Linked DNA regions of Homo sapiens: region 1 is linked to region 2. The links come from fine-mapping of genetic effects on gene expression. A gene starts in region 2. The other region holds a variant in brackets. All regions are shown on one strand. Distances are from middle to middle. Region 1 overlaps TOMM70 (translocase of outer mitochondrial membrane 70). Region 2 holds the start of LNP1 (leukemia NUP98 fusion partner 1).

Region 1 (16,270 bases), 34 kb after region 2:
ATAGGGTCATGTGTCCTGCCAGGGAAGTGCATTATTAGGCGATTTTGTTGTGTGGACATCATAGAGTGTACTTCTACAGACCTAGATGGTATAGCCTACTACACACCTAAGCTGTATGTTGTAGCCTGTTGCTCCTAAGCTACAAACGTGTATAGCATGTTACTATACCAAATATTATAGGCAGTTATAACACAATGGTAAGTATCTGTGTGTCTAAAACATATCTAAACATAGAAAAGGTACAGTAAAAATGCAGTATTACAATCTTTTGGGACCACTGTTGTATATGTGGTCTGTTGATTGAAATGTAAATATGCATGACTGTATTTCTTTCAGAAGGGTGTTAAGTGTTGAGATAACCTCTTAAAATTCTTGACATTTTGATCTTTACTGGTAGTGTCTGAAGATTAATTTGAAAGGTAATTATCTGATGTCTAACCTGCTTTGATATTAGAATGTACAGGATGTTTAGTTTTCTAGAAGAAGGGGTTTCTTGCTTAATAGTGATCAGAATTGCAGGGCAGAAATGGTTGGCTTGTAGTCCTTTCTATAAGTTGGATACCATTTTTATGTTTTGGAATCTTGCCTTTTAAATTTCAAGATTTTTAAATCACTGTTTCTAGAAAGTAATTATATATTGAATTACTACTACATGCTCAGCATTATGCTGAGGTGTAATAATAGAGATGAGACACTGAACATACTTAACTGGACTAGTTGAATTACATTTATTTACGTATTTTTTTCTTAGCTGAAAATACTCCTTGATCAAGTTGAAGAAGCAGTGGCAGATTTTGATGAATGTATTAGGTTAAGACCTGAGTCTGCTCTGGCACAAGCACAGAAATGTTTTGCATTGGTAGGTACTACTTTCTTTTGTATTTTCCTAAACATCACTTTTATTTTCCAGCGTCAACAAAAATGAGTATCTCATTGTCTACAAAGTCGTCTTTTTCTTTCTTTCCCAAAGGATAACTACTGAGGAAAAAAGGTGCTGATTGATACCTAGCTCTTGTATTTCTCTGGACATTTGTTTGGGTTCATCTTGATAGATGTTTGTCCCTGATTTTATACTTCCCTAAACAGAACTGGTCTCCCTGCTTCATCATAAATCAATATAAAGAGCAAAAACATTTTGAGGAAACACTCTGTAAACATGACACCATGTAACTTGCTCTCTCACCCCTGCTTCATAGAACTGTTTCTTAATATTCAGAAACACAAAGCTCAAAAGGTTGTTTTTTTTTTTTTTTTAAGTAAAAATTTTTCTAGTAAAATAAGATACTTCCAGTTAGCTGTATGGCTGGAGTCGTAAAAGAATTTTCAGTTTAAAGGAAGAAATTATGTCACAAATATATATTATAAATGAAAATGACAAAAATTTTACTAGATTTAAAATTCATTTATTGCAAAGTTCACTTCTTACAAATTAGTATGCCCTCTTCTACAGTATTGAACATCTTGAAATTGTATAGTGGCCATGGAGTCCTAGTTGTACATAACCTTTGGCTCTCTGCTGCTGAGATACCTACTTGGAACCCTTTTGGATGCTGCAGATTATGTTAGCAAATCACCTGTTTTTTTGGAAATATTTATGTAATTTTGTGTGTTTATGTTAACATTCCATGAGTTTTTGAGTTCTTGATTTGACAGGCCTGTTTTGATTTTTTATAGTACCGCCAGGCATATACGGGAAACAACTCTTCACAAATCCAAGCAGCTATGAAAGGTTTTGAAGAGGTCATAAAGAAATTTCCAAGGTGTGCCGAAGGCTATGCACTATACGCCCAGGTAAATGTTTTTTCAGGTTTTTTAAAAATAACTGCATACATATGCCAAATCTCAGTATGGAAATCAGAAAACAGTGCTATCATGGTTGCAGCTTCTTTGGAAGCAGGTGGCTTTGTTCCTGATTGATTCTCATGGCCCCTGGTTGGTCCCGAATCACCTCAGAAGAGGCTCCTTTGTTACACAATTTGGAAATCATGGCCCTAAACTCAATATGGGGAAGCTTAAGGCGAGAATTTCCCTCCTGTCTTCATTTGGATTGGTTTTGCAAAAAGTAATTACCTTAGGAAAATTTACCGTATGCAATTGGTGGAGAAAATATCCACGGAAAGGCTTTTCTTTCTATCTGGTCACTGCCTTTTTATATGGCTAGGTTGTTGTAACGGTTTATTTTAATTTATCTTTGCTTTATCTAAAATTCCTGAAACTCTCTTGGTTTAGGATTGAAGCTATGGAAAGCAGGATTTAAATCTGAATTTTTTTATTGTAGTCTGAAATTCTTGAAAACTTCTTAGTTTTAAATCATCCATTTAAATGAAAATGATTAGCTTCTTGTAGTGACGGTCATACATTTTCCCCTCAAATAAAAGATCTCTGAATGACTCAGTTTTCTTTCTTAAAGCTGAAAATTGGTTTTGGTGTCTACATAAACTAGCCATCTCAATACTCTATATCAGGGGTACAGCTGCTTTGTGGCCTCTTAGGAATGGGGCTGCACAGCAGGTGAGCCTTGGGCAAGCATCACCACCTGAGCTCCACCTCCTGTCACTGTCAAATCTGCAGCAGCATTAGATTCTCATGCCTGATGATCTGAGGTGGAACAGTTTCATCCCAAAACCATCCCTCCTCCTCCTACCCCCATCCATGCAAAAATTGTCTTCCACAAAACCAATCCGTGGTGCCAAAAGTGCTGGGAAGGTGTTGGGGACTGCTGCTCTATGTAATTTATTTTTCTTTTTTTTTCTCTTTTTAATTACAAAAGACATGTTGGGTTTTTCCCCACAGCACAGAAATAGGAAACGATAACAAATTACTATCCCCTGGCTGGGTGTGGTGGCTCCTGCCTGCAATCCCAGCACTTTGGGAGGCTGAGGCAGGCGGATCACTTGAGCCAGGAGTTTTGAGACTAGCCTGGCCAGCATGGAGAAACCCCATCTCTACTAAAAATACAAAAATTAGCTGGGTGTGGTTTGGCGCACACCTGTTATCCCAGCAACTCGGGAGGCTGAGGTAGGAGAATCGCTTGAACCCAGGAGGCGGAGGTTGCAGTGAGCTGAGATCACACTACCACACTCCAGCCTGGGCAAGAGTGAGACTCCATTTCCAAAAAAAAAAAAAAAAAAAAAAAATACCATCGCTGGTTGACCCCTCTCCTTAAACCATTCTTAAGGATGCTTATTTTGTTTTTAATTTCCTTCATGGTATCTGTAGGCAGGTTATAAGAACAATTTCACAAGGATTTTAAGGGTTTATTGAGGGTGGAACTATGAGAAAATTGATTTGTGTTGGATCTGTTCTTTAGAGGTAGGTCTTATATATAACTACATTAAAGTGTACATTTTAATCCTATGAATGGGTACACTTGAGTTTATGCCTTATAATTAGTAACAAACCAGGAAATGACAGCAACATCCTCATCATTGTCATGGAATTCAGAAGGGCTTTTTTGGTGCAGATTTCTCTAAGCATCTAGAAGAGCAAAGGCCACCGAATAGGAACCACTACTGGGGAACAACTCCTCTGCAGAACTTTCCCAATAGCATATTTCCCTATTACCATTCTGCCTTCAAGATAGGTTTGGTTTGTATGAGCTGTCTTCTCATCAGCATTAGCATTATTACAGTCAGTTTGCACTCAAATTTCTTTTCTTTGGTCTGTTTTCTAATTTTAGCTTCACTATATAGTATATGTAACTTTATATATGCATACAGTACGTGTGTGTGTATGTGTATGTGTATATATATATACTTAGTGTAACTTTTTTGGCCCTCAAAGCTTTGGCGTAGATGCTGGCCAACTCGCAAAGTTACAGCTTGAGCATAGTCTGATATCCACAGAACTGTGCCTTCCATTTCAGCCGTGGGATTTGTCTTAAAAAGTTGATTATAGCTGCTGCTTTTGTTTTCAAAATAAGTATTTATTACATTATTGTTAACTATGACAAACAATTGGGGAAAATCCTAAATGTTAACAGAAAATTGAATTATGTTTGCAGAATTGTGGTACACTCACTTAATGGTATATTATGCAGCCATTAAAAGTTACAAATACATTAAAGTTACAAAGCAAGATACAGCACTGCCTATTATTAAAGGGAGAATTGCATACAAAATGAACTCAACCATGTGAAAGAAAACAAATAGGGAAGTAAATAGAGATAGAAAAATATATCAGGAAGGCATCCATGCTCACAATGATGGAAGCTATAAAAATATTTCTACTTTCTATATCTTTCTGATTTTTATTATAAAGAAGATGTGCTGGCTACATTTCTTTGATATTTTTAAGAGCGATTTTTAAAATATTTAAGTTGGCTTATTTTAGATATGAAAAGACTAAGAGCCATACAGCTAAATATAATGACTCACATACTTCTTAAAAGTCATCTTATAAATAACCGGGGTTAACTGAATATGGGCTAGGTATTATAGATAATATTAGGGAATTATTTTTGGAGATATATTAGTTGAAGCAGTTATAGCTGCTTTTTAAAAAATCAATAATTTTAAACAAATAGCTCTGAAGACATTTAACACATACATCTTAACTTATACTTCCAAATGAATATTGCCCTTAAGATAATTCCCTGGCCAGGTGCGGTGGCTCACTCCTGTAATCCTAGAACTTTGGGAGGCCGAGGTGGGTGGATCACCTGAGGTCAGGAGTTCGAGACCAACCTGGCCAACATGGTGAAACCCCATCTCTACTAAAAATACAAAAATTAGCCAGGCAAGGTGTTGGGCGCCTGTAGTCCCAGCTACTCAGGAGGCTGAGGCAGGGGGATCACTTGAACCCAAGAGGCGGAGGTTGCAGAAAACAGAGATTGCGCCACTACACCCCAGCCTGGGTGACAAGAATGAAACTCTATCTCAAAAAAAAAAAAAAAAAAATTCCCTTGGGCTGTATTATGATAAATTATGAATAAGTGATGTGACTGTACCTATGAGAATGTGATATTAGAGCTGTGACTAAGAATGGGATTATCTGTATTGAACAGTTTACCAGAGATTATCTGCTGTGGCATATAACTAACCACTTGCTGAAGAAAGAGGATAGTTAAGATTTCATATTTATAGCAGTGCCACCTAAAAACTCCGATAATTAAGATGTAAAATGTAAATCAGTCTGTATCCCCAAAACGTGATAATTTTGTAATAATGAATGAAGTAAATTTTTATAATGAATAATAAGTATACTTTTAACTGCTTAGGTTGACGGTTACCTTAATATAACTGAAGTATCTCCTCACATAGGCATTAACAGATCAACAACAGTTTGGTAAAGCTGATGAAATGTATGATAAATGTATTGATTTGGAACCAGATAATGCTACAACATATGTTCATAAAGGGTATGTATTTTTGTGATTGTTCCAATGAGATAATAAATTTCTTGCATAGTAATAAAATGTATTTATTTTGGCCACTGAGGAAGGGGACTGTGGTAGAGAAGTTAATTGACAAACTTCTTAATGCTCCTAGATGTCTTTTCATTCTTACAGAAATTAGTTAAGGAGGCCAGGCGCAGTGGCTTACACGTAATCCTAGTACTTTGGGAGGCCGAGGCAGGCAGATCATCTGAGGTTGGGAGTTCGAAACCCTCCTGACCAACATGGTGAAACCCGGTGTCTACTAAAACTACAAAAAATTAGCCAGGTGTGGTGGCACATGCCCGATTCCCAGCTACTCAGCAGGCTAAGGAGTGAGAATCACTTGAACCTGGGAGGCAGAGGTTGCAGTGAGCCAAGATTGCACCACTGCTCTCCAGCCTGGGCGGCAGAGTGAGGCTCTGTCCCAAAAAAAACAAAAAGAAAGAAATTAATGTACTATTCTTGCTCTGTGTTAAGGGTTTTAATTTCAAACTGAACATCCTGTCAGCTGTTGGCTTATATCCAAATACGAAGCATACACAAGTGTTCGTGTCCTTGCGTACTTGAATTATCCTAAGAAACTTCACTTAAATTTATATAAAGTGAAAAATAAGGGATGCAAGATTGGTAATAGAGCCTAGACCATTGAACACTTTTTGTAATAAGGAACTTAGACTAGCAAACCAATATAAGCTGAGAAAAAAAACACAATTTGATGCTGATTATATATTGCCTTATAAGTTATAAGTTAACTTATAAGTTCATTGAAGGCAGAAATTGAGTCATATTAATGTGTGTGTATTCCTACTGATACTGGGCCATGGTCACATCTGACATTTTTTTGCATTTGCAGTTTACTTCAACTTCAGTGGAAGCAAGATCTGGATAGAGGTTTGGAACTTATCAGCAAGGCTATTGAAATTGACAATAAATGTGATTTTGCCTATGAAACCATGGGAACTATTGAAGTACAAAGGTAACTTCTGGAGTCTGTTAGGAAATATATGGTAGCTCCATAGATATTTAGCTTTTTGTTCTTATTACGTACATGTTAAAGTCTGTTATGTTCTTTCCTCTTTTCACCTGTATTATTCACGTTGGAAAAAAAAATGTGCTAAGGCAGTGACATAAGGATTGGTAGCCAAGTTGCCAGAAAATCTGGACCCTCCTCCAAAGAAGCATCCAGCCAAATGGCTGGGCAAGTTGCAACATCAACTCAGAGCCCCTGAATTTTCTTTAAAATCAGAGTTGGATAAGAACATTTTTTGCAGCTCTGTCCTTAACCTCTTATTTTGTGTAAGTGTTTATCCAGAGTTGCTCTTAAGATCCACCATTAAAAGGTGACAGCTGTTTTATATATGGGATTTATTGTATACCATCTTAATA[C/T]TGGTATTGCCATTCATTTGAGTTTCCTACTTTAGGCCAAGTATTAAACTTTAGATGTTTCCTAAGTACTATTTCAATTAATCTTCATCCCCATCTTTATAAAGGTGGAGATTATATGATCCCTAATTTAACTGATGCCCAGAGGGCTTAGGTTTACAAGGTTGCACAGTAAGCCAATAGAGAAGACAGGGTTTGAGCTCATATATCACTGATACCACAGTCACTGATCTTGGCATTATCACTTGTCAGGAAGCAGCATGAGTTTTCTTAATTCCCTATCATTCAGCCCCTCCTGTAGTCCTCTCCCTGCTCTACAGTAGGCAGAATATATATAGGCTGGTAAAAAAAAAATTGTGTTTCTTTTAACCATTCTGTACCCACAGTGGCATGTAAATATTAAGTTTTTTTTTCTTCTTTTTATGAGACAGAGTCTCCAGCCCAGGCTGGAGTACAGTGGCACAATCTTGACTCTGCAACCTCTGCCTCCCAGGTTCAAGTGATTCTTGTACCTCAGCCACCCAAGTAGCTGGGACTACAGGCATGCACCACCATGCCCAGCTAACTTTTTGTATTTGTAGCAGAGATGGGCTTTTGCCATGTTGGCCAGGATGGTCTCAAACTCTCGGCCTCAAGTGATTTGCCCATCTCAGCCTCCTGAAGTGCTGGGATTACAGGTGTGAGCCACTGCACCCAGCCTAAATTATTTCTTAATTGCTAATTTGTTAATGTGAATAAAATATTCTTGTACTAGAATAGGATAGGGTGGTAGTTCTTAATCTTTTTTGAGCGAAGCTGTGGATTCTTCTTAGAATAATGCACACAAAAACACTTTGCTTTTAATTCAAGGCTTTCATAGATCCTGGGTTAACTAAAGACCTCTGATAGGGTTTGATGGAATTTTGTTCACGTTAATTGAACTTTGAAAAAATCCATTCTGAACCTTACAATTAAATAAGTGAATTTGAATAAATGAAATTGCAGATTATCCTAGGATTTTGCAGATCTGCTAGCTGTTGGCCTAATGCCAGAACATGAACTCTTGAAAAAAGTTTTTTTTAAAAATAAGCCTATCACGTTGCCATATATTATAATGGGGGATTAAATATAGTCACCCTAGTGGTACCTCTTACTGGCATATAAAGTCTAACTGGCACATATGCCAATAAAATGTACCTTACTAACATGTATGCCAGTTAGACTCTGTATATGCAGGTATATATATATATAGTAGGGACTTAATATTCTTTGTAGGATTGCATATATATGTAGCTAATACTAGTTACTTAAAACAGTTGGTTCTTAGATAGCTGTGGATTTGACCAGAATCAGGCAGAGGCAATAAATCTGAGTATTTATTGAGTAGGTGTGAGGAACTCACATAGACTGCCTGAAGAGTAGAGATGCATGGGGTTGGGGATGTGCTGGTAAGAGATGAAACAGAAAGAGGTGGGCCCACATCAGTCTGTGAAGGTAAGGCCCTTGCATGTCATTAGTGTCCCGGTATTATGTCACTGCTTTCTAAAGGAGTCTCATGTTAACAGTAGAAACATGTAAAATTTAGGAACCAGACGGAATTGTGATTTTAAATAAGCCAATCAATTTCCCTAGTCTGACTGTTCTTATCAGTAAACACAGAATACAAGGGATATAATGTAAGCACATAGTATTTGTAATAGTAGTTGACATTCATTGAGTGCTTTCAATGTGGTAGGTACTCTTGTTTATTTTAAAAGAAGCATTTTACTAGAATCATAGTAGAAACTTAGTGGTCAGACTTCATGTAGCATCACTTACAACCTTCATTGAATATTGTGAAGAAACTTAGTGGTCAGACTTCATGTACCATCACTTACAACCTTCATTGAATATTGTGAAGTGCTTGTTGAATCTGAGACTTAAAAATTTTGTTCTTTTAGAGGAAACATGGAGAAAGCCATTGACATGTTCAACAAAGCTATTAACCTGGCCAAATCGGAAATGGAGATGGCCCATCTGTATTCACTTTGCGATGCCGCCCATGCCCAGACAGAAGTTGCAAAGAAATACGGATTAAAACCACCAACATTATAAAACAGGGGGAAAGCAGACTGACCCTCTTTTTAAAAGTTTACCCCCTCTTCAACTGAACCCTAAAGACACTGTCATGAACTGTGTTGAATGGTGGAAATCAGTATTTCTGTTTGTGGTGTTGTTATTTGTTACATCTGTTTCATGTCTAGGTGTTGTGGGTGTGGCTGTTGAAGGAAGTTTGCAGTCTTGCAGCTTTTATTCCCTGTGCAACAAAAGATTAGAACATGTTAAAGGGATTTTTAAATAAAGTTGCAAAGAGTACAAATGATAATTGGCCATGCAAATAAAAACTGATTTGTTGATTTTTTTTTTAAGGGGGGTTGGCAGTTGATTATGTTCTGGATGATTCCGTCTATATATGTGTGAATAATGTAAGTATTTTACAGCATGTTGATTTTTAAATTAACGTAGTAAATGCTGTAAAATAGATTTATATTCAGTTAACCGCTTTCAGTTGATTTTTTGAAAGAAACAAAGGTTAAATGGGGGATTAAAGTAAAATTGAGAGACCCTTTAAACCATTGTCAGCATGCACAATGCCTCTGATTCTGCAGTTTTAGAAACTTGGTGGCACTTATTAATCCTCTTGGCCCCTTTCCACTCTAATGGATAGTGTACATTCTTCTTAAAGTCCACAACAGCAGATTTTCTTGCAGTAAATTATGCAGATGCAAAATATTCTAATTGATATATGTGTTGGAAGACTGAGTATTGATGGGGGAGTGGACCAGACAAAGAGGTAAGATGAAACAGTAGTGTGTTTATAATTGTCTGTGACTATTTTCTATAATAATTAGTACTATTTAATGGTGAGCTTTTAAAAATGTAGGATAGAGGGTACAGTGGCACTGTATATACTATTTATAGTCTCAGCTACTAGGGAGGCTGAGGCAAGAGGCTTGAGACCAGGAGCTCGAGGCTGTAATGTGCCATGATGATTGCACCTGCGAATAGCCACTGCACTCCAGCCTGGGCAATATAGCAAGACCCCATCCTTTAAAAAATTTTAGAACTTTTTTAAAATCAAAGTGCAGATTGCTTGTATGTAAAACCCAAATAAAGGTAGAGTAAGTGTGATATATGGGAGTATTAAAATAGCTTAAAATTTCTCGTGAAGGACATGTGGCTAAAGGGTCAAAAAGGATGTAAGACTTGGAGCCAGAGCATAGTATTTCCTGAAATAACAAGTTTAGTGCTTTAACTATGGCTACATGTGCTTAAGGAATTTTGAGCCACTTATTTTTGAAGATGCTGAGGACATGTAGAGTGCTTTTTGTAGTGAGCTAACCTTGATCTCTAAGGACTAACTACCCAGGTCCAGGTCTTCACTAGGGGTACTGACAGTGTTTAAGCTTTACTCCACCTCCTTACTTAGAAATCACTTTACGATTTATTTCCATTTTCCACTTTTATAGACCATCCTTTTGCTTATATGCTAGATTTTTCTGGTGAGGGAAGGGTTGTGTTCTTCAGGGGTCTTTTGTTTTGAAATACTCAGGATGGGGAGAGGTTTATTTAAGAACGAATTATAATTATGGTTTACACTGTTGGGAGTAAAGGAGCATTTTTACACCCCTTAAGGGTGCTTAATTCTGTTGAAACCAAAAAGATTTGTCTACAAATGCTATCTTTTTTAGAAACTATTAGAAATGACTCCCTTTCAAAGTCAATCTTTGGAAAATATTGAGGAGGTCACTAATTAGTTGGTGCAGTTAATATAATTCAAGATGATTTGGATGATGGGAAGTTTGAGACCGCTGCATTTTGTTTTTAAATTATGCACCTTCTGATAACCCCCAAATACAGAAATGTTCTACATCTCTGAATGACCTCTGACTTTAAAAAAGTTTTTATTTGCATGGCTGTATTTACATTAACACTGACATTTTCTTCTACTCTTCTCCCTTCTTTCATCTTGGGGTTGGGTAGAGAAACACAAAGGAAACTGAAGCATGTGCCATTCTATACTGTCATTCCAAATTCTCATGGACTATTGCCTGTTGTGAAAATGTTTGAAACTGCACTGAAAGCTGCATCTGTCTGTATCTTTCTTTTGTAAATGACCTCACATGTAAATTCACCAAATAAATATTACATTCAAGCTCTTCTATCTATTCTTTAAATAGAAAGATAGGTAGTTTAGGCTGGGCATGGTGGCTCACACCTGTAATCCCAGCACTTTAGCAGGCCGAGGCGGGCAGATCACGAGGTCAGGAGATCGAGACCATCCTGGCTAACACGGTGAAATCCGTCTCTACTAAAAATACAAAAAAGTAGCCGGGTGTGGTGGTGGGCGCCTGTGGTCCCAGCTACTTGGGAGGCTGAGGCAGAAGAATCATTTGAACCCGGGAGGCGGAGGTTGCAGTGAACCTGCTGAGATCACGCCACTGCACTCCAGCCTGGGCAACAGAGCAAGACTCCGTCTCAAAAAAAAAAAAAAGGTAGTTTATTCATTTATTATGCTATTGCGTAAATTCACAGTGAATCTCTTGTGAACTCAAAATAACTTTGAAAATAGGAACATACAGGAAATGTTAGCATATGAAGCAAAGTAAGTTTGTTGGTATGAATGGTGGAGTTTCTTGAGAGCATCCACCCCTCCTACTGTGAAACAAGGCTCCACGGAGAGCTGGTAGAGCCAACTTATTTCATTCTTTGCCTCTACCTTACCCATACATGCACAGCAGCCTGGAAGCTTGCCAATCAGACATGGACCCTGTGGATAAGTTTATTTTGAATCTGGTTTCACCAGTGAGATTGATCATAGTTCTCAACCACGTGGAGTCTCTCAGAAAGCATACCTGAAATAATCATCCTCGAAAATTGTGGTATAAGTAGAGAATACATCCCAAAACAATAAAAAGCAACTTTGGCTGTAAAACAGTTCAGACAGAACTTTCTGCCCTCTGGGAACTCAAATTGTAGTTTAAATAGTAGTTTGTACCTGTAGAAGTCAACTAATTGTTATAAGACTATAACAGGAGGACAATATAGCCAAACCAGGAAACTTAGGAGTATAGAATAACAATTACCCAAGACTGTCCTGTATGGAATTTGTATTTATAAGGAAATAACTTAGGAGTTGTTGTGGGGATACGGGTTATAATTAGTCCTATTCCCATCCTCTGCTAAATTGATTTGTGAACAAAGTGACAAAATTTTAATTTACTTGCAAGCTTTACCACACTGATAGGATGAGTAATGATTCCCCAAAAGACAGCCACATCCTTATCCCTGCAACCTGTGAATGTTACTTTAGTTGGCAAAAAATGGGCTTTGCAGATGTAGTGAAGGGTCTTGAGAAGGGGAGATTATCCTAGATGATCTGGTGACCTTAAAATGCAGTCACAAATGTCTATGTAAGAGGAAGGTTTTAGACAGAAGAGGAGATGGCAGTGTTGCCACAGAGGCAGAGACTGGAGGTGATGTGGCCACAAGCCAAAGAATGTTGGCAACTACCAGAAACTGGAAAAGGCAAGAAACGGATCCTGCCCTAGAGCAGAGTGCCAACACCTTCATTTTGGCCCCATGAATTTGGACTCCAGAAGTAAAAGAGAATAACTTTGTTTTTTTTCAGCCACTAAATTTGTGATGATAGTTTATTACATCAGCCATAGTAACAAATATTCCTTTGGCTATTGTGTACAAGCAGATAAATGGTTTAAAGGAATGCCTTTGAGTATGCTAAAGTAGAATGACTTCATATACACACAAATTTTGGCCAAAGATGGTTTAGGCAGTGAATGTACACCCATGCCACAGACTGGAGTTTTCATCAACAAGTGGGGGTATTTGTGATTTAAAATATGAATGATTGCACTATAACTATCAGACCAAAAAGCTGCCCTTCAGGTATAAAGTAAAAATTGAGATCCCTCTGCCAATATTCTACAAGAGACATCAGAAAGAAGGCACTGTTTTCAGACTCTTAGCATGAAAATAACTAGTCTGGTTTACTTCAAGGTGATAGTGCACAAATCATATTAGGAGTTGACAGCTATAGATCCTTCTCAAAGGTCTTCATGCTGGAGGGCCTGCTGATCACTGGGATAGAAGTAGCTGTGGTACCTGGCCAAGGGGAGGAAGCTGAACATGGTGTATGCTTGGGGTCAAGATGATTGCTGCCTTTCAGAGCTCAGGATACATGGCTCAAATTTCTCCATTTCTTTTGTTGGTGCTTAAAGATAACCTGTGCAAGTGTTGTCCTGGAAGGCTATGAAACAGCTTACCTAGAGCAAATACAGGAAGACCATGACTAACATTGGCTCTTGGGCATTGTTTTAGAGGGCGAAAGGTTTAAAGCAAGAATGCAGCATGGTAGGATTCTCTGCAGAGATGATCCATGGCCTAAATTATGAACTGCTATATTAAATAACTTTTACCTGATTTTATTTCTCAATATTGCTCTGTGTCAAGAGCTGTAAAAGGTCTAAGATGTTACCCTTCTTGAAAACTAGTTTTCTGAATGCTGGCAGAAGACATGAGACTCCTGGGTCAGACAACAGACTTAATTATTTAGAACATAGCAAGCAACATGAGTTTGAGCCACAGATCCCATGGGAGTGACACAGGGCAAGCTAGGTGGATACTGCACATGCAGTGGGTTTGCGTCACAGCCCAAATCTAATGAGGTCACAAGCAAACTGGCCTGACTTTCGCATTAGAGGGAAACACTATTTTGACTGTATCAGATAGTAAACAAACCTGTCCTATGATCCAGAGGAAGATAGTCTCTACCTTCCAAAGCTGTCATTATATGAACATTCTCGATTGGATAGTTTGGAACAAAACACCAATGCCTCTACTCACAAAATGTATGGAGAACTGACTCCCCATCTCTATGTGTTCTTTTATGCATCTCAAGCTTAGTTTTTCAGCAGTGTAGAGCTTTACAGTGTCTGCCTTAGACAACAGCATGATGCAGGGAGAAATTACTGGCCTGAGCATCAGGTGACCTTAGCTCTAAATCAATACTGCATTTTTTTTTTGATACAGTTTAACTCTGTTGCCCAGGAGTACAGTGGTGTGATCTTGGCTCACTGTAACCTCCTCCTGCCTTACCCTCCCGAGTAGCTGGGATCACAGGCATGTGCCACCACACCCGGCTAATTTTTGTATTTTTAGTAGAGATGGGGTTTTGCCATGTTGGCCAGGCTGGTCTTGAACTCCTGACCTTAAGTGATCTGCCCATCTTGGCCTCCCAAAGTGCTGGGATTACAGGCGTGAGCCACCATACCCGGCCTCTGAATTAACACTGCTTTCACTGCTTTCTAATGGAGCTAAGATCTTAAGTAAATGAATATTCAGCTCTACAGCATATGAAGTTACATCACGTCCCAGGCTCTTCCCAGATCAGACTCCCTTAAGGTAAGGAAATCATTCCAGAATTATTTGGCCAGAACACTTGGTGAGAGAGCAAGTGCAACCTGTAGGAATAAATTCATTCCAACTCAACATTTACTAAGCACTCATGATGGTGAGGGTTAGCCATAAAAAGATGAACATAGAGGAGCTCAAAAACTGAGTTTTGGTGGGCTGGATAGTAAATGAACCTGTCATATGCTTCAGAGGAAGGTAGTCTCTAAAACAGAAGTACAATGTAGTGCCATGGAAACAAGAGTAATAAATTGTGCTAAGCATTAAGGAATAAACAGGATTTAGGTAAGGAGCTTCCAGAATGTGGGGAAACAACCACAACAAATCTAAATAAAGGCACAGCATGAGTGTGAGCTGAAAATGAGGCATTCAAGGTAGAGTCCAGCAAAGTGAAGTGGTTGTTTTTAAACGAGTGGGGAAAAGCCAACAGGAGAGCTATGTGAATGAGAATTATCGGCATATATTGAAGACCATGCATGTAGCTGAGATTCCTCAGGACAAAATAAAATGTAAAGGAGCTAAAATAAAACTATTAATATAAGGGCCTTTAACATCTAAGGGACAATGTTAAGTGGTGAGAGAGGCAGTATGAGCAAGGTCACACCAATGGTGTTGAGAGAGGCCACATGGACAGGTCTACAAATCGGTCTTTAGTAATCTGCCAGAAGAGTGTCACTGGACAGATGAGGGCAGAATCTGCCTGCCGGGGTCTGAAAAGCAATTGAAAGAAACTAAGAAATTGGGTGAAAAAAAATCAGGAAGAGTACTTTACAGGATGGCGTGCTCTTTGTTCTGAGGGAGAAACTTTGAGAATGAATCTACAGACAAAAGACTTAAAGCCTAGTTAGCACAACGGGATATACTTGGAGGATTCAATATGCTTCAGGAAGAGCTAGGATGACAACATTTGGAATTACTGGACCCTGCCCACCATGTTCTGTTCTTGCAGATTCTTGTTCATTTGATTATGAATCAGCTGTGAAGTAAATCATTGAACAAGAAGCACTGTCTTTGTATGTATGTGTTTTAGTTATTTGTACATCAGGGGCTTAACTTTTTAATTGGTGATTTTAACAAGACCATTTTATCCTAAAGTGCTTTCTATTCCAACAGCTGGCTTTTTCTTAGTCTCCGAACTTCATTCACAAGTAGAAATGAATGAAGATAATAATTTGATAGGAAATGTGAAACTGTCACACACAGGTGGTTATGAGGCATAAGGAAGAGCCCCTGTTTAGCCTGCAGCACACACATCATTTCCCTTTCTATCCCTCCTGGCTTCATTGTACCCACGCACCACCAAAACTTACACAGCAATGCCTAAAAAGTAGCACAAAAGACTTAAAACCAGTGCCAATAGAGCAGAACATTTATCTTGAAACCTAAACTCTTGTCTAAACTTTTTTCCACTTGGTGTACTTTGCACAGACCTAACTTTTGGTATCAGGAAGGAGTCCTTCCCTAAATACCCAGTCGATGTCACAATCTACTCCTTGGTCATTTAAAACCCCATAATGTTACTTATTTATTCATTTGCAACCAGTGCAACACTTATTATCTGTTAGCTCTCAGCTTCAAACAGCTAGGTCAAAGTCAAGTAGAACTTTCACCACAAACTGCACATCCTGACCTATTTCAACAGAGGTCGTCATCCCTGTGAGGAATTCACTTAAATGTGAATTCATTAAATGTGTTGCCTTACCTAAACTGCAAGAGATAGAGGTTCACAACTTGTGATAGCAGACTTCAAAGTATTATGCAAAAACAAAAAACAAAAATAAAACATCATTGTCTAATTCATTAGAAAGTCGGGGAGTACAGGGGTATGGCAGTTAAAACTTACCCAAGGCCTCAACTGCAATGTTCTTCCACTCCAAGTGGGAATCTAGTGTTCATTTTATTCGGATATCACTTTGCAAAAAGGTAAAATCCAGGGCCAGGTTACCACACATTTTCTGAGAATAAAATGCTACATACTAATTATAGGAGATGCCTACTTCAGTTGTTTCTTTTCATATTTTTCAAGAGTACCAGAAGGCAAGATCTCCTGATATACCACTA
Region 2 (16,270 bases):
CCATGACTTCAGGCCAGTAACTGCAGACTGAGACTCTAGACCCATCCCGGCAGCAGATGGGAAACCATAGCCCCTGTGAGACAAACTTGAGTTCCAGCCCACATCACCATCAGCCAACTACAGTGGTCTTGGGATCCAAATAACCCACAGCAACAGGCAGGCCCCCTCAGTGGCTGCAAGCTTCAGATGTACCCCAGTGCTGCAGTAGCCTCAGCAGCTGTGGGCTTTGGGTGCACCCAAGTGCTGCACCAGCCTCAGCAGCCACAGGATTCCATCCCAGTGCTAAGTCAGCTTCAGTGACTACGGGATTTCAGCGTGGCACTGTGCTGGTCACAGTAGGGAGTACATAGCACTCCCTAGAGCTGGAAGGGCTGCAGTGGTCACAGGCTCGGAGACCACACCAAATGACCTGCCTAGAATCTCTGGACAGGCTTACTGTTAGAGGATGTTCCCAGACAAAGCCAGATTGTGAGGGCTGGAATAAGTAACTGCTTCTTGAATGCACACACACTGACACATGACCACAAGAACAATCGGGGAATCATGACATCACTAAACAGACAAAATAAGATGCCAGTCATAGACCCTAAAGACACAGATATATCAACTATCTGCCAAGGAATTCAAAACAGCTGTTTTAAAGAAGCTCAAAGAACTTCAGAAAATACAGAGAAACAAGTCAACAAAATTAGGAAAATAATAAATGGTCAGATGAGAAATTTACCAGATAAATTGAAATAATAAAATCAGACCAATTTTGGAGCTGAAAAATACAATGAATGTAAAAATGTAATAGAGAGCATCAAGAGCAGGATTGATCAATCAGAAAAAGAATCTGTAAACTTGAAGACAGGTTATATGAAAATATACAGAGGAGAAGAAAGGAAAAAGAGTGGAAAGGAATAAAGAAACTTTATAGGGTTTATGGGATAGTATCAAAAGAGCAAATACGCAAATTACCAGCATTCAAGAGGGAGTAGAGAAAGATAAGGGTGTAAAAGGCTTATTTAAAGCAGTAATAGCAGAAAACTTCCCAAACCTGGAGAAATATATAAATAGCCAGGTACAGGAAGGTCAAAGATTTGCAATTAGATTCAATCCAAATAAGACTATCACAAGACATATTATAATCAAACTCTACAGATCTAAGACAAAGACAGGATCCTAAAAGCAGCAAGACAAAAAAAGCAAGTAACATATACGGCAGTTCCAATATGCCTAGCAGCAGATTTCTCAACAGAAATCTTACAGGCCAGGGAAGAGTGGTATGATATAGTCAAAGTGCTAAAGGAAAAAAAAGACTGTCAATCAAGAATACTGTACTCAGCAAAACTGTCATTCAGAAATGAACATGAGATAAAGACTTTCCTAGTCACACAAAATCTGAGGGAGTTCATCACCACCAGACCTGTCTTACAAGAAATGCTAAAGGGTGTTCTTCAAGCTGAAAGGACACTAATGATAAACACAGAAACATCTGAAAGTATAAAACTCCCTGGCAAAAATACGTACATAGCTAAATTTAATTTATAATACTCTGATACTGTAATGGTAGCATTTAAATACTGTAATGAGGGTGTGTAAATCACGTATCTTTAGTAGGGCTAAAAGATAAAAGTATTAAAATTAATAACTACAGCAACTTGTTGATGGATATGCAATATAAAAATACTTAAATTGTGAAATTGAAAGCACAAAATATTGAGGAAAGGAAGTGGAGTTAAAGTGTAGTTTGCATGTGTATGTGTAAATAATCAAAGTTAACTTGTTATCAGTCTAAAATAACCTGTAATATCTATGTTTTTTGAAGCAAAAACCGACAATAGATACACTAAAAATAAAAATCAGCCAGGCGAAGTGGCTCATGCCTGTAATCCCAGCACTTTGGGAGGCTGAGGCAGGCGGATCATGAGGCCAGGAGTTTAAGACCAGCCTGGCCAACATGGCAAAACCCCGTCTCTACTAAAAATACAAAAATTAGCCAGGCATGGTGGCGGGCACCTGTAATTCCAGCTACTTGGGAGGCTGAGGCAGGAGAATCGCTTGAACCCGGGAGGCGGAGGTTGCAGTGAGCCGAGATCATGCCATTGCACTCCAGCCTGGGCAACAAGAGCAAGACTCCATCTCAAAAAATAAAAATAAAAAAATAAAAATCAAGCAATCAAAAACACCACCACAGACACATTTATAATGTTTAAACAAGTATCTGGGTATCCCATGGCCCAGTCAAATTGACACATGAAATTACCCATCACACCACCTATATTCTGGGCTCTGGCTGTACAAAATGAACAGTTTCTGTCCTCGTGGGGCTTACATCCTATTGAGGGGATCACACTATTTTTTTATTTTTCCCACAGACAAGTGTACACCTGAGAGGTTTTTTTTTTCTTGAGGCGGCATCTCACTCTGTCACCCAGGCTGGAGTATAATAGGGTAATCTCGGCTCACTGCAACCTCCGCCTCTGGGGTTCAAGCGATTCTCCTGCCTCAGCCTCCTGAGTAGCTGGGATTACAGGCATGTGCCACCATGCCCGGCTAATTTTTGTATTTTTAGTAGAGACAGGGTTTCACCATGTTGGTCAGCCTGATCTTGAACTCCTGACCTCAGGTGATCCACCCGCTTCGGCCTCCCAAAGTGTTGGGATTACAGGCACAAGCCACTGCACCCGGCCCACATAGGTAATTTCTAATAGTGCTAGGTGCTAATATCGTAGACCAAAGAAAGAGAAGAGGTGTATGAAGGGAGGCATGGGTGGGCAGAAATGTTGAACTTTATAGTGAAAGTGAAGAGGATTTAAAAGTCTTTCAGCTCAAGAGTGAAATTACAGTTATGCTATAGGAAGAGTAAATTGATATCAAGGTGCAGGGTGACACATAGAAGAGAGGCACTAGAGGCAGAGAAATTATCTGGGAAGCAAGCAAATATAGGATTTAGGCAAGATGAAGGAAATGAATAAAAGAGAAAAAAGAGGGGAATGTAATAGTATTAGGAGTTGAGGCCTTTGGGAAGTGATTAGATCATGAGGATGGAGCCCTTAAAAATAGGATGAGTGCCCCTATAAAAATGAGACTCCAGAGAACTTTCTTGCCCCTTTCCACTATTTGAGGACACAAACCAAATTTGCAGTCCTCAACCCAGAATAGGGCTCTTACAGAATTTGACCATGCTGGCACACTGATCTCAAACCCCCATCCTCAGGAATTGTGAGAAATAAATTTCTATAGTTTATTAGCTAAGTAGTTTTATGATATTTTTGTTATAGCAGCCTGTACTAAGATGGGAAGAAACTATTTATTGAGTATCTGTTATGTGTTATACATACTCTTAGGAGTTTTCACTTATATGAACTAAGAAGTGTCAGAATGGGTGAAAAAACTATAAGAAAGATATTACAACAAAGTTGAATTTGTTGAAGACTTCACAGCTGATTTTGTGTTTATGTGTGTATATAAATACAACAGCATAATCATTTGTGCTTGGGTAGGTAAGGATGAAAAAGAGAGAGGTCTAAAAAGGTCTATGGTTTCAAATATGAGTAACTGCTAAGGTAATAGTGGTATTATTAGAAAAAATGGATAACACAGGCTGGGTACAGTAGCTCATGCCTGTAATCCCAGCACTTTGAGAGGCCGAGGCGGGCGGATCACGAGGTCAGAAGATCGAGACCATCCTGGCTAACACGGTGAAACCCCGTCTCTACTAAAAATACAAAAAATTATCCAGGTGTGGTGGCGGGCGCCAGTAGTCCCAGCTACTCGGGAGGCTGAGACAAGAGAATCGCTTGAACCCAGGAGGCAGAGGTTGCAGTAAGCCGAGATCACACCACTGCACTCCAGCCTGGGCAACAGAGCGAAATTCCATCTTGGAAAAAAAAAAAAAAAAAGGATAACACAAAGAGAAAGAATGAGTGGGGAAAATGATGAGTTATATTTTTGACAAAAGTCAGGAATCCAAGCAAAACTGCTCAGTAAGTAGTAAGAAATATAGGGCTAGAGGTAAAAAGGGAAGCTATGCCAAAAGATATATAGACAGTGATTATCTGCACAGAAATGGTACCTGAAGCAATGAGATTTACTTTGGTTACTAATGGAGAGATTGAAGATAAAGAAGAAGACATATTCTAATAAATTCCTCACTTGAGGAATATCTAGAGCTGTGCTGTCCAATATGGTAGTCATTAGCCACATGATACTACTTAAATCAATTAAATAATGAAAACTGTAGTCTTTGTCACACTACATTTCAAGTGCTCAATAGCCACATGTGGCTAGTGGCTACCATATTGGACATCATAAATATAAATCATTTCCAGCATCATAGAAAGCTGTGATGGACAGCACTGATCTAGAGTTTGGTCAGAGCGTAGAAGAACCAGAAGACTCTATTCTCCTGAAGCCAAGGAAAAGAACATTTCAAGGAGAGAATAATCAGTGGTATCAAGTAAAAGTGGGTGACAGCCAACCTCCCCCACCCACAAAAAAACCACAATGAATTTTATGACTTCTAAAGCACTTTCAGCCTAATTATAAAGTTGTAAACTAGATTACAACAGATTTTGGATGAAATGGGTGCCAAATAAGTAACAGATGTAGACAATTCTTTTCAGTAATTTTTCAGTAAGGAAAAACAGAATGAAAACATCAGACAGCTGAAAGAGAATAGAGCTGTTCTATATGTACATGCTTAATATAAGCAGATTTGTGCACTGGCTGGAAGGTTTGGACACCAGTCAACCAGCTATTTACCAACTCTAGCAATCTGAAAGGCCTTTCATGTAGCAATGACAATTGAAGGGACAGAATTACATCATTTTAAAACAATAAGGAGCCTTAAAAATAATCTAATCCACCCCTCCTCACATTATAAAGAAAGCAGAGTTGCCCATGGTCACACACACAACTCAGTGGTATTAAAATTTAGAATAAGAATTCAGGTCAGCTGGGCATGGTGGCTTATGCCTGTATTCCCAGCACTTTGGGAGGCCGAGGCAGGTAGATCACCTGAGGTCAGGAGTTCAAGACCAGCTTGGCCAATATACAAAAAATTAGCCTGGCATGGTAGCAGCCGCCTATAATCCCAGCTACTGGGACGCTGAGGGAGGAGAATTGCTTGAAGCCTGCAGGCAGAGGCTGCAGTGAGCCAAGATGGCGCCATTGCACTCCAGCCTGGGCAACAAGAGCGAAACTCCATCTCAAAAAAAAAAAAAACTCAGGTCTTCCACAACCTAGTCCATTAGACTATCTCATTTAACTGCCTCCTAAGATACAGATCAAAGGTGAAGAAAGCTTCTTCAGTTGAGTTCCACTAATCTACCAAGAAAAAGATAATGTCTATGTTCACATATACAGAACTTTAATTTTTTAGAAATGAAAGGCAGTATTTTACTTCTTTACTTTAAAATTTAGAAAAACTGAGAACTAATCATCAAATATCTATTGCTTTGTAACAAACATCAAAAGAACTTTAAATATTCTCTAATTAAATCTTTACTATAGCCTGAGAGGTAGATGTTTTCACCATTTCACAGATTAGAAAAACATGCATCAGATCAGTAAGGTCCCAAAGCCAGTAAGCGACACTCTATTTGGCTCTACAGTACCATCAATTAGGAAATGGAGGAGAAAATGAGAGAATAGCATAGGCTAGAGAATGGAAATGAGATGTTTATCAAAGTATAAAAGTAACCAGAACAGATTCGTTTACTAATGCCAACCTTAAAAATAAAGCCAAACAAAATCAGGCCTTTAGATAAATATTAATCCAAAAAATGTTTCAAGAAAATAACACCGATTCCCTTTGGAGAGGGGAACTGTGCAGCTGAGGACAGGGACTGAAGGAAGACTTTTCACAGTAAACTCTGTAACTTTTGGAGTTTAACCGTAACAGTGTATTGCTTACTCCAATAAATAAGAAAAAGGTTTAAAAAAAAAACTTCAAATATGTTTTAGTTCCTATCAAGTTTGTAATTGTTAGCACTCTACAATCCTCCAAGAGGCCACAGCAAAACTGAAATTTCAGAAAAAAAAAAAAATCCTAACTTGTGTTCTGAAAAAGGCAAGGCAGAGCTTATATTAAGGGGCAGAAAATTTGCCTTTGGGGATTGGGGGATCAGGAGGGGAGAAAAGCCTATTGCCTGCAACGATCAACTCAATTCCACTGCTATTTTTAGCCCATTTTTTTAGTCTGTTGCTAAGAAACCCTATTGCCTGAAGGCAATTTACTAATAGGAACTTACATGAAGCAGGAGAAACCGGTGATCCTGAAATTCTTTCCAATTAGGCCATTCTATTTTAATCAGTCCATTCTGGTGCCACTTGATAAAATATCTCCTTTCAATCTTTATGTAGCTCTACTGTGATGTTGTTGCACTTAACAGCAAAACAATCATTTATGAAATCTTAATGTAAGGCTTCTGCAAACCAGTATACCAGAAATGGAGAACCATAGTTCTGGACTCTGATTTTTCTATTAATAGTTGTCTTCATGAAAATACCGTGTATTCCAAACAATACCTTGCAAGGTAATTTTATATTTTAAGAGATCTGGTGCAGAGCATCGGAAAAAGAGTTGATAAAGCTATTATAGATAAAAAGCTGTGAACTGAAATTACGATTTGGGAATGAGACGAGAAGAGGGCTGAGACTGCTACTGCAAAACAACCCGGGGGGCGTGCGGATCAGAGCGAGATGTGGGCTGACGCAGAAATCAGCTCAAGATACAAATACGCCAAGAAAGGCTCGAAGCCGGCGGGAACCCTGACGCTTCGCATTTCTACCAACTCAGTTTAAGAAACCCCTAACAACGCAGATGTCATCGCTTCGTTAATTGGTGCCGACGATGAGCCACAGCGACCACGCTCAAACCGTTTCGACTGCAGCCAACCTAGATGTGCCATTTCCACCTAGTCTTCTGCCATCGCTATCTCCCCTATAACCTCAAATTCGTCCAAACTAAAATCTCGCTATGTTAGTGATAAGAAGTTCAGTGATGCAGCAGCCTTCTTCAGCGGTGAGCTCTTTCCTCACACATCTTTAAAAGTCCTTCTAATCCGTTGGTTTCTCGGGCACGCGGGCAGAAAACCGTGCTAACGGCCACAGAGGTTCAAGAGGTGCCAACGTGGCTATAACTGGAAAACTGGATCCGAAATCGACCAGTAAACTGGGTAGCTCGGTCTACGCCCCGCCCACCACCCTTGCTAGCCAATAGCCTTCACAACTCTTCTGCCACTCCCGCCCATTCCAGTGCTGTGCCGCTGCTTTTTCTTCCACTCGGATCTCTTGAGCGCCCTTAGCCCGCTGTATACGCGCCCCTCCTCGGCTTCAGTAGGCAAGAGGGCCATCTGCCCTTCTTTCCTGAAGGTAGAGGGGACAACACCAGCTACGACGGGGACTCCAGAAGTCCATCTCCCGAACAGCAGCGGGGCGAAAAGAAAGAAAAAGGGTTTCCGAAGACTCCTACTCACACCCACGCTTTCCCTTAACCCGGAAGTGATTTCCGCCCCTCCTCTCCCTCTTCGGTTGATACTGGAGGAGAAGGACGGCCAGGTCTGGCCCGGCATGCCCTGGGCTTCCGGTGACCTCTGGCCCTTTTCTGTCGTCCGCTCTCTCTGCCTAGCGTGCTCGCTCGCTCATTGCTTTCCTTCCCTCCCTCGGTCTTCCTTCGCACGCTGTTTGGTGATTGTGGCGCTCGCGACAGACAGGGAGGCGGTGGCAGAGGACACTTGTCATGGCCGCCTCTAAACCTGTGGAGGCAGCGGTGGTCGCAGCCGCTGTACCGAGCTCCGGGAGTGGGGTGGGCGGCGGCGGGACTGCGGGCCCGGGCACGGGGGGGCTGCCGCGATGGCAGCTGGCTCTGGCGGTCGGGGCACCCCTGCTGCTGGGCGCGGGTGCCATATACCTGTGGAGTCGGCAGCAACGGCGCCGGGAGGCCAGAGGCCGGGGCGACGCCAGCGGCCTGAAGCGCAACAGCGAACGGAAGACCCCGGAGGGCAGGGCCAGTCCGGCCCCGGGCAGCGGACACCCTGAAGGTCCCGGTGCTCACTTGGACATGGTGAGAAGCAGCCCCAGGCCGTAGAGGAGGAAACTGGCTCGTGCAGCTTTTCCTTGGCGGGTTGTGTCAGTGAGGGGGCTTCCCATCAGACGGAAGCTGCCAAGCGGCAGCACAACACTTGGGTTTAGGGAGACTCATTTCTGGCTGCCAGTGGAGGGCATAGAGTAGCTCGATGACAGGTTACTGGCATTCTTTGACAGTTTGCTTTTGGTTTCAGAAAAATCCTTTGCTTTTCTTCTCAGTGACACAGCATTTATCCCTAGTGTTGTAGATGGGAGTGGGGCATTTGCAAATGTGATGATTGTATTTAATAAGTGAAGGAAGCTAAATTCGATTAACAATTGGTACATCGTGATACGAACTGTTTCTGTGATTTCCAAAGCCTACAACCTAATCGCTAAGAGCCTTTTAATAATGAGCCACTCCCCCTTTTGGAGTGTGTTTTTGCTGGGGGTAAGTGGGCAACTACAGTGACGGTTAGTTGACAAAAGCAAAACAAAAACAAAAACGATTAGATGGCTTTCTACATAGAAAAAGAAAGACTACACAGGTTCTAAAGAGTGAAATGGTGTTCAGTGGCATTTGTTTTACAGCCTCTGAACTGTAAGCAGAACTGTCAAGCTCCCAAGGCTCGTCCTCTCTCAGCAACCCCGAAGCCCCCTTGGCTGCAAGCACTCAGCGCCCGTAACCTCTCCTGCCATGCCCCAGCCCCAAGGTGTCCTTTTGCACTCCGGACCCCTTGGCCTTTGTCAGAAAACGCTCTGCACTGCACTGTCCCCTCTTGCTGCACAAGAGTAGCGGCCACAGCAATGCTCACCAGGCTTGGTTGCACACAGCCCCCTGCCCCAGGTCCAGGCCTACACACACATACAAAAAAAAAAAAAAAAAAAATGGGAGTGACTTCTTAAACTTTTTGATTGGAAGCATCTTAAATTCAGTTTTTCCATTTCACCTGGAAATGTACATGACCAAGCCTAATATGCATGATACAGTTTCTCTGATGTGAGGCCAAGCATTGGATTATTTAGTGAACTGCTTTGTATGGTTTTGGTGAACTGACTGTTAAATCCTTTTGGTATCTGACAGCTGTGCAGAGAATTAGTCTGGCTGCATTTGACAATACTGGGATTGGGTGTGGTGGATTTTCTCTGGGTCTGGAGTTGTTCAATGGTAGTACCAGAGTAAGTCGAGGTCAGAGAAACGTTTGGTCAAATATCTCCCAGTTTTATACATAAGTATATACAGTTGGTCAAGTAACTTCTAATTGTATCCAAGTGTATACACTTAAATATGTATGCAAGTCATTTCCATATTATACTATTCAGGTTGAATTTTTTTTTTTTTTTTGAGATGGAGTCTCACTTTGTTGCCCAGGCTGGAGTGCAGTGGTGCGATCTCAGCTCACCACCACCTCCGCCTCCTGGGTTCAAGCAGTTCTGCCTCAGCCTCCGGAATAGCTGGGACTACAGGCGCGCGCCACCATGCCCCGCTAATTTTTGTATTTTTAGTAGAGACGGGGTTTCACTGTGTTGGCCAGGCTGGTCTTGAACTCCTGACCTCAGGTGATCTGCCCATCTTGGCCTCCCAAAGTGCTGGGATTACAGGCGTGAGCCACCGCGCCCGGGCGAAGATATTTTTACTAGGATGTCAAATTAGCTTTAAAGGAAGTTTTGGTGTAGGAATGAACAAACTAGTATCTGCAGTGTGTGAGGCATTGTGCTAGGCCATGAGAAAGCCATATGATCTTTCCTATGGGAGAGTGAAGCATTACCTATTTTCTAAAAGGTTTATGACTGGATAGTAGAAGAACTTATGGACTGTGTTAGAACTAGGATTTGTAAGCTTTATAGTGGGCTCTCCAGCATTGTCACTTTGGGAAAGTCATTTTGTCTCCTTGACCTTAGCGTCATCCCTGTAGAATAAGAGGATTAAAATATTAGATCTCTTCTGTTTCTTTCAGTACTAAAAATTGATGATTCTCATTATGATCATTTATAATAGCTCACTGCTGCTATTAAAAGTAGTTATCAAGAGGATTATTTGAATTAATTATCACTTGTCTTACATCAATTTTGGATGTCTGAAATTCTCCAGTCATTTTCTATTTCGTTTGTTAATTTAGTTTTAATCATGGAAGAATAGTAGGTAAAATAAAAGATCCAAAAAGTTCTCAGTTCTGTAAACATTAAAAATAAAGATAGTTTCTATACATGAAACTAAATTTTTTTTTTTTTTTTTTTTTGAGACAGCGTCTAACCCTGTCACCCAGGCTGGAGTGCAGTGGCACGATCTTGGCTCACTGCAACCTCTGCCTCCTGAGTTCAAGCAGTTCTCCTGCCTCAGCCTCCTGAGTAGCTGGGATTACAGGCATGCGCCACCATGCCTGGCTAATTTTTGTATTTTTAGTAGAGACAAGGTTTTGCCTGGTTGGCCAGGCTGGTCTCAAACCCCTGACCTCAGGTGATCCACCCACCTCGGCCTCCCAAAGTGCTAGGAATTACAGGCACGAGCCACCTCACCGGCTGAAACTAGATTTTAACATTTCATTGTGGTTTCAGCCACCCCACCTCATCCCAGGGGATCTGTACCATTGGTATTTGATAAAACCTAGCCATCTCCTTTTCACATTTTAGATGTCCTAATTCCTCTTTTCCACGTTGTCTGGATCAACACTGATGATTTTTTAATTTCATGATATTTCAGAGTTTTTTAGTTTTACAAATAACTTTTTTTTTTTGATACGGAGTCTCACTCTGTCACCCAGGCTGGAGTGCAATGGCGAGGTCTCGGCTCACTGCAACCTCTGCCTCCTGGGCTCAAGAGATTGTCCTGCCTCAGCCTCCCAAGTAGCTGGGATTACAGGCACGCACCACCACGCCTGGCTAATTTTTGTATTTTTAGTAGAGACAGGGTTTCACCATGTTCGCCAGGCTGGTCTCAAACTCCTGACCTCGTGATTCACCCGCCTTGGCCTCCCAAAGTGCTGGGATTACAGGCATGAGCCACTGCCCCTGACCACAAATAACTTTTTATTCACCTGACTGCTGTTAAAAATTAGAATTTAAGATTGGACTCTTTGTGTAACTTAAACTGCTTTAAAATGATTTATTTTTGGCCCCAAATAAAATAAGGCAAAACATTTGCACTTACCATTGTCCATCTTGTGGAATATGTAGGCCTACACCTGTAATCTTTGAATTACTAGATTGTTCTTTGGTAAAGCAACAATAGGAAGGTCTTTGTGATTTTTTTAAACTGGAAATTTATATCTTAACTGTTGGTGACCAGTAAATATTGAAAGACTACTTTTGTCTTCTTTTAATAGTCTGGTCCTTAGAGTTATTATTAGACTATCTAAATGTAATTAATTGATCAGTAATTGTAATTTCTTATCTGTGGTTGGATAAACTGCTGTACATTTGAATAGCACCTCTAAATTGGCATCCTCGGTGGATTTCGCAACCAGAAGCATTTGCTTTCACTGATGGAAACCTGGCAGAATCCTGATGCCCTAACTGTCCTTTCTCCACCTGAGCAATAGCTACAGTTTTTAAAGGAATGAATAAATAGACAAATATTGTCTGTTTAGGGTTTGATATCAGAAAATAGAATGGAAAATCTGTATTTTTGTCTTTTGGCTTATGTTTACCTTAATGTAAAATGATCTGATAGAATTACTGGACTTCTGTCTATTGGGTTGGAGATTTTCCTTTACAATTAGTGTGCACAATTACCTTTTTTCTGGGATAGCAAAAACTTGTAAAGGAAGTGCAAAGGATATTCATAGTTGTTTTAATTAATGGGAATATTGGGGTATCACTGAAGAAAAGCATTTAGTCACAGTTGATAGTGTCTAAGACTGAGGTGCTTAAAGTATTAGATCATATTCCATTTTGAACTATTATAAAATCTACCATGATGTGCCATTTTGCTTCAGTAATTTTTTTAAACTTGAAGAATTAAAAAAAAATTTTAAATTGCAAGGCTTTTTAGAAGATCATATTATCCATAGTGCTTCTCAATCTGTGGGCTTGAGTCATCACGAGGGACCACCACACATATATTCCAAGCATGGTATCCTGGCTGTACCAATGTCCCAGATACTTCTTTTTCAAACATCCTGTGATTTTCTAGAAAAATGCACTTATTTAAAAGCATTATTGACTTCATTGTAACTTTTTTGTCCAATTGTTATTTAATCTGATGATAAAAAATGCATCATTCTTGTGTTCATATTTAGCATTAAATATGTTTAGCCCATGAAATGAGTTTAGCCCACATGAAATGGTTAGGAACCAATAATCTAAGCCAGCCTACTACAGTAGGAAAGGGAAGATGTACCTACACATTTTAGTAAAGGGTCGAGGACTGCATAAACTGTTGTTATTGGTCATCTTGTTTGAAATGAAGTCATTCTCTCCCCCAAATGATCTGTTTTGAGTCATTTTTAAAAAATCAATCAGGGACACCAATGACATTCCCTCTAAGCTTAGTTAACACTTTTCAATCTTAATCCTTGGCAGTATTTCATATTGTGCTCTAAATGTCATAACTTTTCCTGCTGCTTCTGAGGTACTCCATTTTCCTGATTTAAAAAAAAAAAAAAAAAAACCTGATACCAGCCTCATGGATTCTTAGTCTCCTTATCACAATACAGAGGTCATTTCATCTTTTCTGAAACTTCTCTCTACCTAAGCACACCACTATGTGATTTTATAACACCCTGGACTTTTCCATTTTATAGCACTTACCACGTGGTACTAGAATTGCTTATTGCTGTTTCCTGCTATGCTCTTGAATCTGTGAAGGCTGAGACTGGCTCTATCTTGTTCACCATTGTATTGCCAGAACCTAATACAGGTGCATAGCAAGTGTTGAATGAATGAAGTTTCATTTTTTGACTAATAATTAAGGGTTCCTTTGACATCCCTAAGTTTATATTTTATATATGTGTGTGTGTATGTATATATAAATTTCACAAGTGGTATATTTTTCAAATTTTCCAGCTCTTCATTTTTGTTCTACCAGTTAATGCTGGATTCCGTGGAAATCTTTTTTCCTTTCTCTTTTTTTTTTTTTTTTTGAGTTGGAGTCGCGCTCTGTCACCCAGGCTGGAGTGCAGTGGTGCAATCTCTGCTCACCGCAACATCCGCCTCCTGGGTTCAAGTGATTCTCCTCCCTCAGCCTCCTGAGTAGCTCGCCACCATGCCTGGTGAATTTTTTGTTTGTTTGTTTTGGGTTTTTTTGTTTGTTTTTTGAGATGGAGTCTCACTCTGTTGCCCAGGCTGGAGTGTAGTGGCGCAATCTCGGCTTACTGCAACCTCTGCCTCCCGGGTTCAACCGATTCTCCTGCCTCAGCCTCCCGAGTAGCTGGGATTACAGGCGAGTGCCACCACACCCTGCTAATTTTTTGTATTTTTAGTAGAGACAGAGTTTCACCATGTTAGCCAGGATGGTCTCAATCTCCTGACCTCATGCTCTGCCTGCCTCGGCCTCCCAAAGTGCTAGGATTACAGGCGTGAGCCACCGCGCCTGGCCGTAAATCTTAAACCTCATTTGGGCATACTTTTTGTAAATCAGTTGATTATGCATGACCTACAATCATAATCCTGCAGAAGCAGTCATTATAAAAGTATATTCTTCCTAGGTAAAGAGTTATTATGATTTAGTAGGTGGGGTTGGTTGTCATTTTTAAAATTTCCAGACGTGAAATGGGAAAGGACTTTTTTATTATCTTAGGTTTTATTCCTTATTAGGTTTGAATCCTTATTATCTTAGGTATTATTATCCTAGGTTTGATTCATATGAAAGTAACAATTGGTTGGCCAGGTACAGTGGCTCACACCTGTAATCCCAGCGCTTTGGGAAGCTGAGGCAGGTGGATCACCTGAGGGCAGGAGTTCAAGACTGGCCTGGCCAACATGGTGAAACCCCATCTCTACAAAAATACAAAAATTAGCCGGGCATGATGGTGGGTTTCTGTAATCCCAGCTACTCAGGAGACTGAGGGGAGAGGATCACTTGAACCCGGGAGGTGGAGGTTGCAATGAGCTGAGATCCTGCCATTGCACTCCAGCCTGGGTGACAGAGCAAAACTCTGTCTCAAAAAAAGAAAGAAAGTAAGTAAGTAACAATTGGTCAATAAGTATTGAAACATTGTTTCTCATACAGTAAGTGTTCCAGAGTTATTTAGGTTGCAGTGAGTGGACATCGTGCCCCCCTGGGCGACAGAGCAAAACTCTATCTCAAAAAAAAAAAAAGAAAAAGTAACAGTTGGTCAATAAGTATTGAAACATTGTTTCTCATACAGTAAGTGTTCCAGAGTTATTTGCTACTTCTATAAAGCTGTGATTCAAGTATAATATATGCTTTTTGAGTTTGAGAAATTTAAAACAATAAAACCATTTTAAGAGAAACATCAAACCATCTCAGGTATATTTTAACTGGGTATAAGTGTGTCATCATGGTGACAAATTAATACCCATTTTATTTTCTCACACGCAGATTAATGTACCTAATTCTAGCTCATTTTCTTTTACAGTGACTATACGTGATCATCAGGTTAATATTTTATAAATGCTGAGAATTTATAATAGTTTTCTTATTGCCAGATGTATATCATTGACAGCTTTTTGCAATGTAGTCATGTAATCGTGTTGCAGGACTTGTTTTTAGAGGCTGGTGCATTTCTGATCTCCTGAGGTTCTATATGTGGGCTAATCCTTTTAGGGTTATTTTTCCTTCCTGGAGTACTTTCCTGTCTTTTGTTAGTCATTTTTATTTCAGAGCGGATTCTCATGAGTAGCCTTCACTGACTATCCTAAGCAAAACCTGATTTTCTTACTTTGTATTCCACTAGATTTACCTGGATTGTACCTTAATATTGTAGCTTTCATTTCAAAATGTAACCTGTTTTCTAGAGTAGATTTCATGTCATTAAGAGCTGAGGGGTATGTTCCTAGGTTCTGCCTCGTTTGACAAGTCTCAGTACACTGAAGAGAGAAAAGATATATTTATTATTTTTTATTTCAATATCTTTTGTGGTACAAGTGGTTTTTGGTCACATGGATGAATTGTATAGTGGTAAAGTCTGAGATTTTAGTGCACTCATCACCCAAGTGTACATTGTACCCAATATGTAGTTTTTTTTTAATCACTTACATGCTCTGCCACCCCCCTCCTCTGAGTCTCCATAGTCCGTTATGTCACTCTGTATGCTTTTGTGTACCTGCAGTTTAGCTCCCACTTATAAGTGAGAACATATGGTATTTGGTTTCCCATTTCTGAGTTACTTCACTTAGGATATTGGCCTCCAAATCCATCTAAGTTGCTGCAAGACATTATTTCATGTTTGTTTTTTAATGGCCGAGTAGTATTCCATGGGTATATATACTACACTTTTATCAGTGGGCACTTAGGTTGGTTCCCTATCTTTTTTTTTTTTTTTTTGAGACAGAGTTTCACTCTTGTTGCCCAGGCTGGAGTGCAATGGCACAATCTCGGCTTACTGCAGCCTCTGCTGCCCGGGTTCAAGCGATTCTCCTGCCTCAGCCTCCCGACTAGCTGGGATTACAAGCATGCGCCACCATGCCCAGCTAATTTTGTGTTTTTAGTAGAGATGGGGTTTCTCCATGTTGGCCAGGCTGGTCTTGAACTCCTGACCTCAGGTGACCCACCCACCTCTGCCTCCCAAAGTGCTGGGATTACAGGCATGAGCCACCGTGCCTGGCCAGTTCCATATCTTTGCAATGGTGAATTGTGCTGCAATAAACATACACATGCAGGTGTCTTTTTGATATAATGACTTCTTTTCCTTTGGGTAGATACCCAGTAGTAGAATTGCTGAATCAAATGGTAGACCTACTCTAGTTCTTTTTATGTCTATTCTAGTTCTTTAAGAAATCTCCAGGCTGGGCACAGTAACTTATGCCTGTAATCCCAACACTTTGGGAGGCTGAGGTGTGTGGATCACCTGAGATCAGGAGTTCAAGACAAGCCTGGCCAACATTGTGAAACCCTATGTCTCTACTAAAAATACAAAAATTAGCTTGGCATGGTGGCGTGCACTTGTAATCCCAGCTACTCAGGAGGCTGAGGCAGAAGAATCACTTGAACCCAGAAGACAGGTTGCAGTGAGCCGAGGTCACACCACTGCACTCCAGCCTGGGTGACAGAGCAAGACTCTGTCTCAAAAAAGAAAAGAAAGAAATCTTCCAT

Evidence for each region.
Region 1: its variant is fine-mapped to the expression of LNP1 in unexposed skin (GTEx, PIP above 0.99). The same link has a PIP of 0.9 or more in adrenal gland and whole blood.

What each region holds. Positions count from the first base shown.
Region 1 is chr3:100,358,127-100,374,396 of GRCh38, reverse strand. It overlaps TOMM70 (translocase of outer mitochondrial membrane 70), which reads left to right. Exons shown (of 12, transcript NM_014820.5): 8 at 752-859; 9 at 1,675-1,791; 10 at 5,262-5,359; 11 at 6,231-6,353; 12 at 8,680-10,966. The coding sequence ends at 8,833. It overlaps NIT2 (nitrilase family member 2), which reads right to left. Exons shown (of 10, transcript NM_020202.5): 10 at 12,762-16,270. Among named protein-coding and RNA genes, the nearest start is that of NIT2, 32 kb to the right of the region's middle. The variant C/T (reference allele first, on the strand shown) is at 6,764.
Region 2 is chr3:100,392,409-100,408,678 of GRCh38, reverse strand. LNP1 (leukemia NUP98 fusion partner 1) reads right to left here and starts at 7,140. Exons shown (of 4, transcript NM_001085451.2): 1 at 6,240-7,140. TOMM70 (translocase of outer mitochondrial membrane 70) reads left to right here and starts at 7,590. Exons shown (of 12, transcript NM_014820.5): 1 at 7,590-8,053. The coding sequence starts at 7,730. RefSeq lists enhancers at 1-188, 7,262-7,351, 7,362-7,411, 7,462-7,571, 8,253-9,172 and 1 more and silencers at 7,122-7,201, 7,812-7,891.